2 linked regions of the Homo sapiens genome follow. The protein of the gene in region 2 purifies or fractionates together with the protein of the main gene of each other region. This does not show direct contact. Each region holds a gene or a part of one and is shown on either strand. Other genes may lie near its edges.

The links. The genes of interacting proteins can lie anywhere in the genome.
Region 1: the proteins of TSC22D4 (region 2) and PRKD2 purify together in Homo sapiens (affinity purification with mass spectrometry; 4 studies listed by BioGRID and IntAct, with this or other methods). This does not show direct contact.

What each region holds. Positions count from the first base shown.
Region 1 is NC_000019.10:46,693,086-46,700,121, reverse strand, and holds part of PRKD2 (serine/threonine-protein kinase D2), read left to right. Parts: intron 1-2,271; coding exon 2,272-2,389; intron 2,390-2,887; coding exon 2,888-2,965; intron 2,966-5,988; coding exon 5,989-6,247; intron 6,248-7,036.
Region 2 is NC_000007.14:100,466,016-100,469,247, forward strand, and holds the end of TSC22D4 (TSC22 domain family protein 4), read right to left. Parts: intron 1,586-3,232; coding exon 1,537-1,585; intron 1,154-1,536; coding exon 944-1,153; 3' UTR 504-943; downstream 1-503. Other genes in the region: TSC22D4-C7ORF61 (uncharacterized protein LOC122198330), read right to left, coding at 1,537-1,585.

The DNA.
Region 1 (7,036 bases), on a different chromosome or scaffold from region 2:
TGGGACTACAGGCACCCGCCCAGGCCCAGCTACTTTTTTTGTATTTTTAGTAGAGACAGGGTTTTGCCATGTTGGTCAGGCTGGTCTTGAACTCCCAACCTCAGGTAATCCACCTGCCTCGGCCTCCCAAAGTGCTGGGATTACAGGCATGAGCCACCGCGCCTGACCTATATTCCTCTTCTTTTTTTTTTTTTTTTTTTTTTAAGATAGGGGGTCTTGCTATGTTGCCCAGGGTGGTCTTGAACTTCTGCGCTCAAGCAATCCTCCCACCTCAGCCTCCCAAAGTTCTGGGATTACAGGTGTGTGCCACTGTGCCCCCAGCCTACACATTTTTAAACTATACACGGAGTTCATACTTAGTCAGCTCCACTGGAATGTGAGCTCAGGTGCATGAGGGCAAGGATATTTTCTGCCCTCCCAGGTGCCTAGGACAGGACTGGCTCAGATCAGGCACTTCCTATCTGGGTGTGGCGTGAATGTTTATTGAGAAAGCACAGTTCACACAGGCGCTGGAGGGTGACAGCCCAGATCCCAGCTCTACCACTTCACTTGCTAGGCGCTTCCCTGTGTGCCACGGTTTCCTCCTGGGGCGATGAGGTACCTACCCCACGGGGTGATAAACCTGGGGTAGGGGTAAGGGGGCACCCTCACAGGTGCACTGGAAAATATTTAATGAGCACCTGCTGTGTTCAAGCACACAGCTATGAACAAAAGAGGTAAAAGTCTGCCCTTCTGGAGCTGACTGCCTCAGTGGGGAGACAGCTAATAAATGCATCCATAGCATCGGGTATTGGTAATGGTGATAAAAACAAGAGGAGATGGAGAATGGGGGACATGCTATCTTAGGGTCCTTCAAGGAGACCTCGCTGAGGAAGTGGCAGTTGAAGGGAGGGGAGGGAAGGAGCCTTGTGGGGCTCTGGGGGAAAAGGCTTCCAGGCAGAGGCAACAGCGAGTGCAAAGGCCCTGGGGTGGAGGCACCGTGTTCCAGGGACAGCAAAGAGACCCATGTAGCTGCAGCAGGGAGGGCGAGGGGAAGAGGGTTGGACAGAAAGGGGATGGGTAAGCCAGTCACAGTGACGACAGAGTGTTTCCTGCGGTGCCTCCCAACCCAAGCAGCCTGAAGCCGCAGGTTCCCTTTCTCCCACGTCTTTCCTGGGAATGCCTAGTAACACCGTCATACACTGTCAAGAGTTGGACCTTGAGGGATTGGGGGTGGCGGGTGTGGGGAGAGGCAGCCCATTTCACAGATGGGGAAACTGAGTCTCAGGCAAAGAGATGTGATCAAGGCCACCCAGGTTCTGATCTAGCACAGGGATCCAGAGATTGTTGGTTCCAGAGTTGAGCAAGTCACTTAATCTCTCAAATCTCAAACTCCTGACCTCAAGTGATCCCCCCACTTCTGCCTCCCAAAGTGTTGGGATTACAGGCATGAGCCACCATGCCCAGCAGGCCACTTAATCTCTGTAGACCTTCCTTACTGTACTAACAGCATCTGCACAAATGAGGGAGGTGAGGCCCAGAGAGGTTGAATCACTTACCCAGTGTCACACAGCTGGCTCCACAATTGCTGGACTAAATACCAATTAGCACTTACTGGAGGTCCTCTGTATGCCAGGCACTGTACTAAGCTCCGTAGAAAGGTTTCCATTCCTCATAGCATCCCCTTTGGGTGGACAAACTGAGGCATGAAGAGGTTAGGTAATTTGCTAGGCAGCCTGACTTCAGAAAGGCCTACTACAGAAGCCCTCTCAAGAATCTCCTTCTGGGCCAGCGTGGTGGCTCACACCTGTAAGCACTCTGGGAGGCCGAGGCGGATGGATCTCGTGAAGGGATTCTAAGGGTGGGACTAGGGGCAGGAGTTAGGGAAGGAGTTGAGGCAAAGAGTTCGAGACCAGCCTGGCCAACATGGTGAAACCTCATCACTACTAAAAATACAAAAATTAGCCAGGGGTGGTGGCGTGCACCTAATGGTCACCGTGATTGTCCCGGCCACTCAGGAGGCTGAGGCACGAGAATCGCTTGAACCCGGGAGGCAGAGGTTGCAGTGAGCCGAGATCGCACCACTGCATTCCAGCCTGGGTGACAGAGCGAGCCTCTTAAAAACAAACAAAAAGCAACTCCCGGGTGTGTGTTGGGGGGAAAATGTCAAAACAAACCAAACAAACAAAAACAGTCCCCAACTCCCTAGTTTCCCAGAGATGCCCCCTGCATTCCCAAGCAGCATGGTCACTTTCTGCATGTGACTTCTCACCCCTTCCTCTTCCTTCGCAGCTCCCTGGGGTACATCCCCCTAATGAGGGTGGTGCAATCGGTGCGACACACGACGCGGAAATCCAGCACCACGCTGCGGGAGGGTTGGGTGGTTCATTACAGCAACAAGGACACGCTGGTGAGTGGCCGGGGCGGGGCCGGGTACGGCGGAGCGAAGGCTGGAAGAGGGGCGGCTCAGCTTGAGTAGGCGGGGCTAGGTGGGTGGGGCTGGAGCTAGGCGCGAGCGGGGCCAGTAGTGGGCTGGGCCGTGCTGGAGGCGGGGCTAGAATTAGAAGTGTGGGCTGTAAGGGTGGGACTACGGGCAGGAGTTAGGGAAGACCCGGGGCTCAGGGCAAGGTCAGGGGCGGGGCTAGAGTTAGGGGAGGAGCTTGGCTGGAGGAAGAGGGCTAAGTGGGGGCGAGTCTGGGGTTAGGGCGTGGGGGCTGGGCTAGGGTTAAGGCTAGGGGCGGGGCTGGGGTTAGGGCGTGTGGTGGGGTGGGGTTACGGCGTGGGGTAGGTGCTAGAGTTACGGCGTGCACGTGGTGCTCCAGGCACCTGGAGCCCCAAGCAGCTCCACGGGATAGGGACTGGGCAGGAAAGTCTGGCGGTTCACGTGACTCTTCAAACATCTCTGCAGAGAAAGCGGCACTATTGGCGCCTGGACTGCAAGTGTATCACGCTCTTCCAGAACAACACGACCAACAGATACTATAAGGTAAGCCTCCGGGCTTTCAGCTCCCTCGGACTTCCCGCTGTGCCCACAAACTTTCCCACACCTCCTCCTACCCCCAGTTACTCCAGACAGATCCTGCAAATCACACCCTCTGCCCACCCCCAGCCTCCCTGCTTCCAGCTCATCAGCAAGTGCTGCCCATCCGATTCTGGCCCCACCACTTTCCAGCCAGGGGGACTCCGGGCAGGTTCCCTTACTTCTCAGTGCCTCACGCTTCTCACCTGCAAAATGCCTCAAATGCTAATACTCACCTCAGGGCTGGTGCGAGAATTCAAAGAGCCAATCCACTAAACCAATTGGCTTAAGGCGTGGTATATATTAAGCTCCCAGTAATTCTAAGGCTGTTCTCACTATTCCTTTATTTTTTGTTATTTATTTATTTTTTGAGACAGAGTCTCACTCTGTCGCCCAGCTGGAGTGCAGTGGCGCGATCTCGGCTCACTGCAACCTCCGCTTCCCGGGTTCAAGCGATTCTCCTGCCTCAGCCTCCCACCCTAGGACTACAGGTGAATGCCACCACACCCAGCTAATTTTTGTATTTTTAGTAGAGACGGGGTTTCACCATGTTGGACAGGATGGTCTTGATCTCTTGACCTCATGATCTGCCCCCCTCGGCCTCCCAAAGTGCTGGGATTACAGGCATGAGCCACCGCACCCGGCCTCACTATTTCTTTATAATTAATGTATTGCATTGTGTGCGTATTCGTCACCACCTCCCATGCCCACACTGTGTCCCAGCCACTGTCTTCCACCTGGATGGTTTCAGCCTTCTCCTTGCAGGGTCCTTGCTTCTGACCTCACAACCTCTGTCATTTCCCCCACAGCCAGGGGAGTCTTCATTAAAACCGTCAAACCCCCCAGTGGCTCCCATTGTCTTAGAGTAATAAAACCTGGACTCCAGCTGTTACCTGCCCTGGAGCGTCTTCCTTGAACTTTCCATGGCTGGTTCCTTATCATCTTCCCATTTTGCTCAGACCACACCATCTAAAATGCTGTCCTTGGCCAGGCGTGGTGGCTCACGCCTGTAATCCCAGCGCTTTCAGAGGCCGAGGTGGGCGGATCACTTGAGATCATGAGTTCGAAACCAGCCTGGCCAATATGGTGAAACCTTGTCTGTACTAAAAATACAAAAATTAGCTGGGCATGGTGGCGGGTGCCTATAACCCCAGCTACTTGGGAGGCTGAGGCAGGAGAATTGCTTGAACCTGGGAGGTGGAGGTTGCAGTGAGCTGAGATCGCGTCACTGCACTCCTGCCTGGGCAACAGAGCAAGACTCCATCTCAAAAAAATAAAATAAAATAAAATATAATGCTGTCCTCACCATGCCCCCCCGACGTGTCCATGTCATCACCTGGTTTTATGGGCTGCCTAAGTCATTCATTCTTTCCTCTCTCCTACCTCCCTCCTTCCTCTTTTGACACGTTTCCCACCCCATAGTCCCTGTGCCTTCTGTCCCGCCTGGGTCCCCTCAGCCTCCTTCCTGGTTCTCTGTCTCCATCTCATTCTATTCCATCTGCCCTCCGCACACAAGCGGATGATGCTCAAAAGCCTTCAGTGGCTTCCTAGGGCCCTTGGACAAAGCCCAGGCTCTTCCTTGTGGCCCGCAAAGCCCTGTGTGGCCTCATTTCCTCCATTTATTATCAAACGTTTATTTTTGAGACGGAGTCTCGCTCTGTCACCCAGGCTGGAGTGCAGTGGCGCGATCTTGGCTCACTGCAACCTCCGCCTCCGGGGTTCAAGTGATTCTTCTGCCTCAGCCTCCCAAGTAGCTAGGATTATAGGTGTGCCACCACGCCTGGCTAATTTTTGTATTTTTAGTAGAGATGGGCTTTCACCATGTTGGTCAGGCGGGTCTCGAACTCCTGACTTTGTGATCCGCCTGCCTTGGCCTCCCAAAGTGTTGGGATTACAGGCATGAGCCACCATGCCCAGCCCATTTATTTATTTTGAGACAGGCTCTTGCCCTGTCTCCCAGGTGCAGTGGCATGATCATGGCTCACTGTAACCTCTGCCTCCCTGGCTCAAATGATTCTCCCACCTCCACAGTAGCTGGGATTACAGGTGCGCACCACCACACCTGGCTAGTTTTTTTATTTTTTGTAGAGATGGGGGTCTCATTGTGTTGCTCTGGCTGGTCTCAAACTCCTGGGCTCCAGCGATCTGCCTGCCTTGGCCTCCCAAAGTGCTGGGATTACAGGCTTGTGGCACCATGCCTAATTTTTAAATTTTTTGTAGAGCTGGGGTCTCACTGTGTTGCCCAGGCTGGTCTTGAACTCCTGGGCCATCTGCCCACCTCGGCCTCCCAAAGTGCTGGGAGTACAGGCACGAGCCACCACATCCGGCCATCAAATGTTTATCAAGCTTTTACTATGTCCAGGCACCGCCCATGTGATGGGGATACAGCTTGGCTTTTGAGCATAGCCTTTCCTTAGGGCCTTTGCACATGCTGTTCCCCTACTCCTTGCCAACTGGCTGCTTCTTACCTTTCTGGTCTCTGCTTCAATATCACTTCTGCCAGTAATTAGTATTATTATTATTATTTTTGAGACGGAATCTCACTCTGTCGCCCAGGCTGGAGTGCAGTGGTGCGATCTTGGCTCATTACAACCACCGCCTCCCAGGTGCAAGCGATTTTCCTGCCTCAGCCTCCCGATTAGCTGGGATTACAGGCGCACACCACCACGCCTGGCTAATTTTTGTATTTTCAGTAGAGACGGGATTTTGCCATGTTGGCCAGGCTGGTCTCGAACTCCTGACCTCAAGTGAGCTGCCCACCTCGGCCTTCCAAAGTGTTGGGATTACAGGCATGAGCCACCGCACCTGGCCTCTGCCAGTAATTATAAAAGAACAGTGAGAACAGGCTTAGAATTACTGGGAACTTGTCTGACCACTGTGCAAACCAGGCCCATCCCTATCAACATGGATCCCGTGTATCCTTCTGGGTAAGCACTAGAATTCCAAGGTCTGCCTGGCATCCTCACCTGTGCTGGTTCCACGTCCTGCAGGAAATTCCGCTGTCAGAAATCCTCACGGTGGAGTCCGCCCAGAACTTCAGCCTTGTGCCGCCGGGCACCAACCCACACTGCTTTGAGATCGTCACTGCCAATGCCACCTACTTCGTGGGCGAGATGCCTGGCGGGACTCCGGGTGGGCCAAGTGGGCAGGGGGCTGAGGCCGCCCGGGGCTGGGAGACAGCCATCCGCCAGGCCCTGATGCCCGTCATCCTTCAGGACGCACCCAGCGCCCCAGGCCACGCGCCCCACAGTAAGTCCTCCCACCTCGGGTCCTTGAGAGAATAGATCTAGATGGGTGGGGCACGGTTCTGGGGAATGGAAGGGCCAAAGAGGAAAGTGGGCAATGGTGGGGTTGAGAACGCAGCTTCTGGACTCAGCAGGCCTGGGTTCAAACTCTGTTAATCACTCCTGTTAATCCCAGCGCTTTGGGAAGCCAAGGAGGGAGGATCACTTGAGGCCAGGAGTTCAAGACCAGCCTGGGCAACATAATGAGATTCCATCTCTACAAAAAATAAAAACAATTAGCCAGGTGTGGTGGTGCACACCTGTAGTTCCAGGTACTTGGAAGGCTGAGGCAGGAGAATTGCTTGAGCCTGGGAGTAGTGAGTCATGATTGCATCACTGCACTCCAGTCTGGGTGACAGAGCAAGACTCTGTCTCCAAAACAGAAAAAACAACAACAACAAAAATCCACAACAAATCTCTGTTAAGCTCCTGGCCTGATATGTGGCCCTGGGCATATCACTTCCCCTCCATGAGCCTTGTCCCAGGTGCTGATAAGTCCTCATGCACTTACTGAGTGCCTCCTCTGTGCGGGACAGTGCTGGGGACCCAGTGGTGGCCAGGACAGCCCAAGACCTGCCCTCATGGGGCTCAGAGTCCAGTAGGGCAGAATACCCATCTTCAGAGAGTGACAGTCCAGGGTGGGCAGGGTTGGGACAAGGAAGCTAGGGAGCTAGAGGAGCCCAGAGGGGTACCTGACCCAATCTGGGTATATAGGGGGGCTTCCTGGAGGAGGTGACATCTGAACTGAGATCTG
Region 2 (3,232 bases):
TTCCGCCTGGGACCGGAGCCCAGGCTGCCAGGGAGGGGCCAGCTCACCCACAGGGCCCGTCCTCAGCTGGCCGGGGGTGGGAGCCACGGCGGCTGGCCAGGCCTGGCAAGGGCACCGTGTGCCCGGGGAGCCTGGCCCACACCCAGCCCCGAGACAAGGGGCCCATTCAGGGCCCCCCGCCCCGCCCCCAAGCAGCCACCCGGATCCAGCCCGCAGAGGGGACACACTGGGAAGCCAGGGGTGGATCTTGGGCAACCACCAAAGACCTTATTGTTTCCCAGCCCCCCGCCCAGCACGTGGGCAGACGCCCCCCCACCCCCAATCCTCACTTGCCCCTTCCCAGGACCCGAACCGCTGGCTCCCTTCTCCAGCCTCTGTCTCAATTCCTCCGTCTCCCACGCTTTAAACCTCCCCAGTCTGCAAAAGATCTCAGGGGAGCCCTAAATGGCAGGCGCGACCCCTGAGTCTGAACACAAGCAACGAACGAGATGTCAACCTCCAAATTCAAGTTTCTTCAGAGTTTTTAATTATTATTATTATTTTAATAACAACCTGAATCCCAGAACTTCCAGATACTGTCCACACTCCCTCCCCTGGGCAGAGGAGAGGAGGCACCTCAAGGGAACAAGATGGGGGTGGGGTGTCTGCCGGGGAGCCTCCGACTCCCCCAAGCCGTCTACTGCTGGGGGGTCCCAGGAGGGAGGGTGGGGGTTGGTTCCCTCCCAGAGGGGGCTCCCTCTGACGCCCCGTCCTGAAGCCCTCCCTCCTCCATCAAGGCTGGGGATGATGAGGAGATGGGGCAGGGGCCGGGGGACCAGGCCATTACTGAGCCTTGAACTCCCACCCCGGGGACACGGGGACATTAAAGCTGCATAGGAAGAGGGGGCAGGCGGCTGACGCAAGGCCGGGCAGCCCCAAAGGCACATTGTAAGGGAAGGGAGGCTCAGACGGAGGGCCCATTGGGCGCAGGGGGCCCAAGCCGTGGGACCCCCGAGGAGGGCAGCTGAGCCAGCTGCTCCGGGCTGGCCAGGGCGCGCAGCAGCCCATTCTCCTGCTCCAGCGCAGCGTTCCGCTCCGCCAATTCCCGGATCTGCTCCTTCAGCACCTCCACCTCCTCCCGGACCGCAAACATGAGGTGGGACTTCACCAAGTCCTGGGGGCCCCGGGACAGGCACAGCGTCAACGGGGTGGGTGCCTCATCCCCTGCCCAGTGCCTTGAGGGCTGGGGTGGGAGACAGTCCCCAGTGTCCAGAGGATGAGGGACAAAGCAGGGAAGGGACAGGGGAAAAGGACGAGGGACAGAGGCAGAGTCAGGGCTCAAAGACAGAGATGGGGACCAGTAGCCAGACTAGAGGCTGGGCAAAGTCAAGGGTGGAGGTGGTGGCAGGAGGGGGCAGAGGATGCCCAGCAGCCCAGCAGGGAGAGGGACGGAGGAGCTGGGAGTTGGTGTTCCCTGGTAAGGAAGAGGACAGGGCTGGGGCAGAGGGATGGCTTAAGGGGGCCAGGACCTCCTGGGACCAAGATGGCTTCTCTTACCATGGCTTGCTCGATTTTGTTGTCAATGCCAACCAGGCTTCCGGAGCCACTGGAGAGACACAGGAAGGTGAGGGGAGGAGAGGAGAAGCCTTCCCAGGTGCTGGTTTCTTGGACCACAGCCTCCCGCCCACACCCCCCTGTACCTGTGACAGTAGAGAATGAGGGAGAGGAGGGTTTTGTCCATCCCCCTGCGGGTTGAAGGCCGCTGCCCAGGGCCTCCCAGGCCCCGGTGGGGCGGGGGCCCAGATGTCCCTCGGATGGGGGATGCACCCCGGGGAGAGCAAGGGGAAGAGGCACAGCCCCTTTTTCGGGGCAGCCCCGGAGCCATCCCCACCACTCGGGTCTCATAAGACGACACCAGGGACTTGACAGAGACCCCTGGCTGGGCCATGCCCAAGGGGAAAGGGTCCTTAGACACCCCCCCAATGGAGAGGGATGCAGTGAAGGGAATGCCTGGGGGGCTCAGAGCCCCCCGGGCAGAGCAGGGTCTGGCTGGTGCCAGGCAGGCAGAGAGGAGACAGTGCCTCGGGGGTGCTGGCCTGAAAGATATACACCACCCCCCCAAGGGCAAGGCCTGGCTGCTATTGGCTCCTTGGGGACACGGGGACCCCCCCTCCTTTCAGCTCCTCGGTGGGCGGGAATTCCCAGACACGGTCAGTGCCAGTGTCCCCTTCTCACCCTGGCACCAATCCCAGAGTGGAGGGGAGGGGGCCGGCCGAGGAAGTCAGCTGGTGGCTGGGCCAGGGGAGGGGCGTGGGGCAGAAGCCTGGGTCTGAGCGGGGAGTGAAGGGTGTGAAGGGAGAGGAAGGGGCTGGCCTTCGGAGGCCCCTCGCCACCTCCGACCCCATTCTGTCCCCTCCGTCACTCAAGGCCTTGGGAAAGAGGGTGGAGGTGGCTGGGGTAGGGGGCGTTCTGACGTGCTCGTGGTCTTCCATAGATCATGAGCGCTCTCCCACCAAAAAACCCCACAAGGCTCACATCATGGGTGACCCCTGGGATCTGGCCAGAGGGTCCCTGAGTCTCCAGAGAAGACCAAAAATGGGAAAGGTTACCATGGCAACAGAAACTGAGCCCAAAGCCCTAGAAGATGAATACAGCGTAAAGGCCAGGCGTGGTGGCTCACACCTGTAATCCCAGCACTTTGGGAGGCCAAGGTGGGTGTATCACTTGAGGTCAGGAGTTTGAGACCAGCCTGGCCAACATGGAGAAACCCCATCTCTACTGAAAATACAAAAATTAGCCAGGCGTGGTGGAGGGTGCCAGCAATTCCAGCTACTCAGGAGGCTGAGGCAGGAGAATCGCTTGAACCCAGGAGGTGGAGGTTGCAGTGAGCCGAGATCGTGCTACTGCACTCCAGCCTGGACGACAGAGTGAGATCTTGTCTCAAAAAAAAGCCAGGTGTGGTGGCTCACGCTTGTAATCCCAGCACTTTGGGAGGCTGAGGCGAGTGGATCACCTGAGGTCAGAAGTTTGAGACCAGCCTGGCCAACATGGTGAAACCCTGGCTCTACTAAAAGTACAAAAAATTAGCTGGGCATGGTGGGGGGTGCCTGTAATCCTAGCTACTCTGGAGGCTGAGGCAGGAGAATCGCTTGAACCTGGGAGGCGGAGGTTGCAGTGAGCCGAGATCGTGCCACTGAATTCCAGCCTGGACAACAAGAGCAAAACTCTGTCTTAAAAAAAAAAAAAAAAAAAT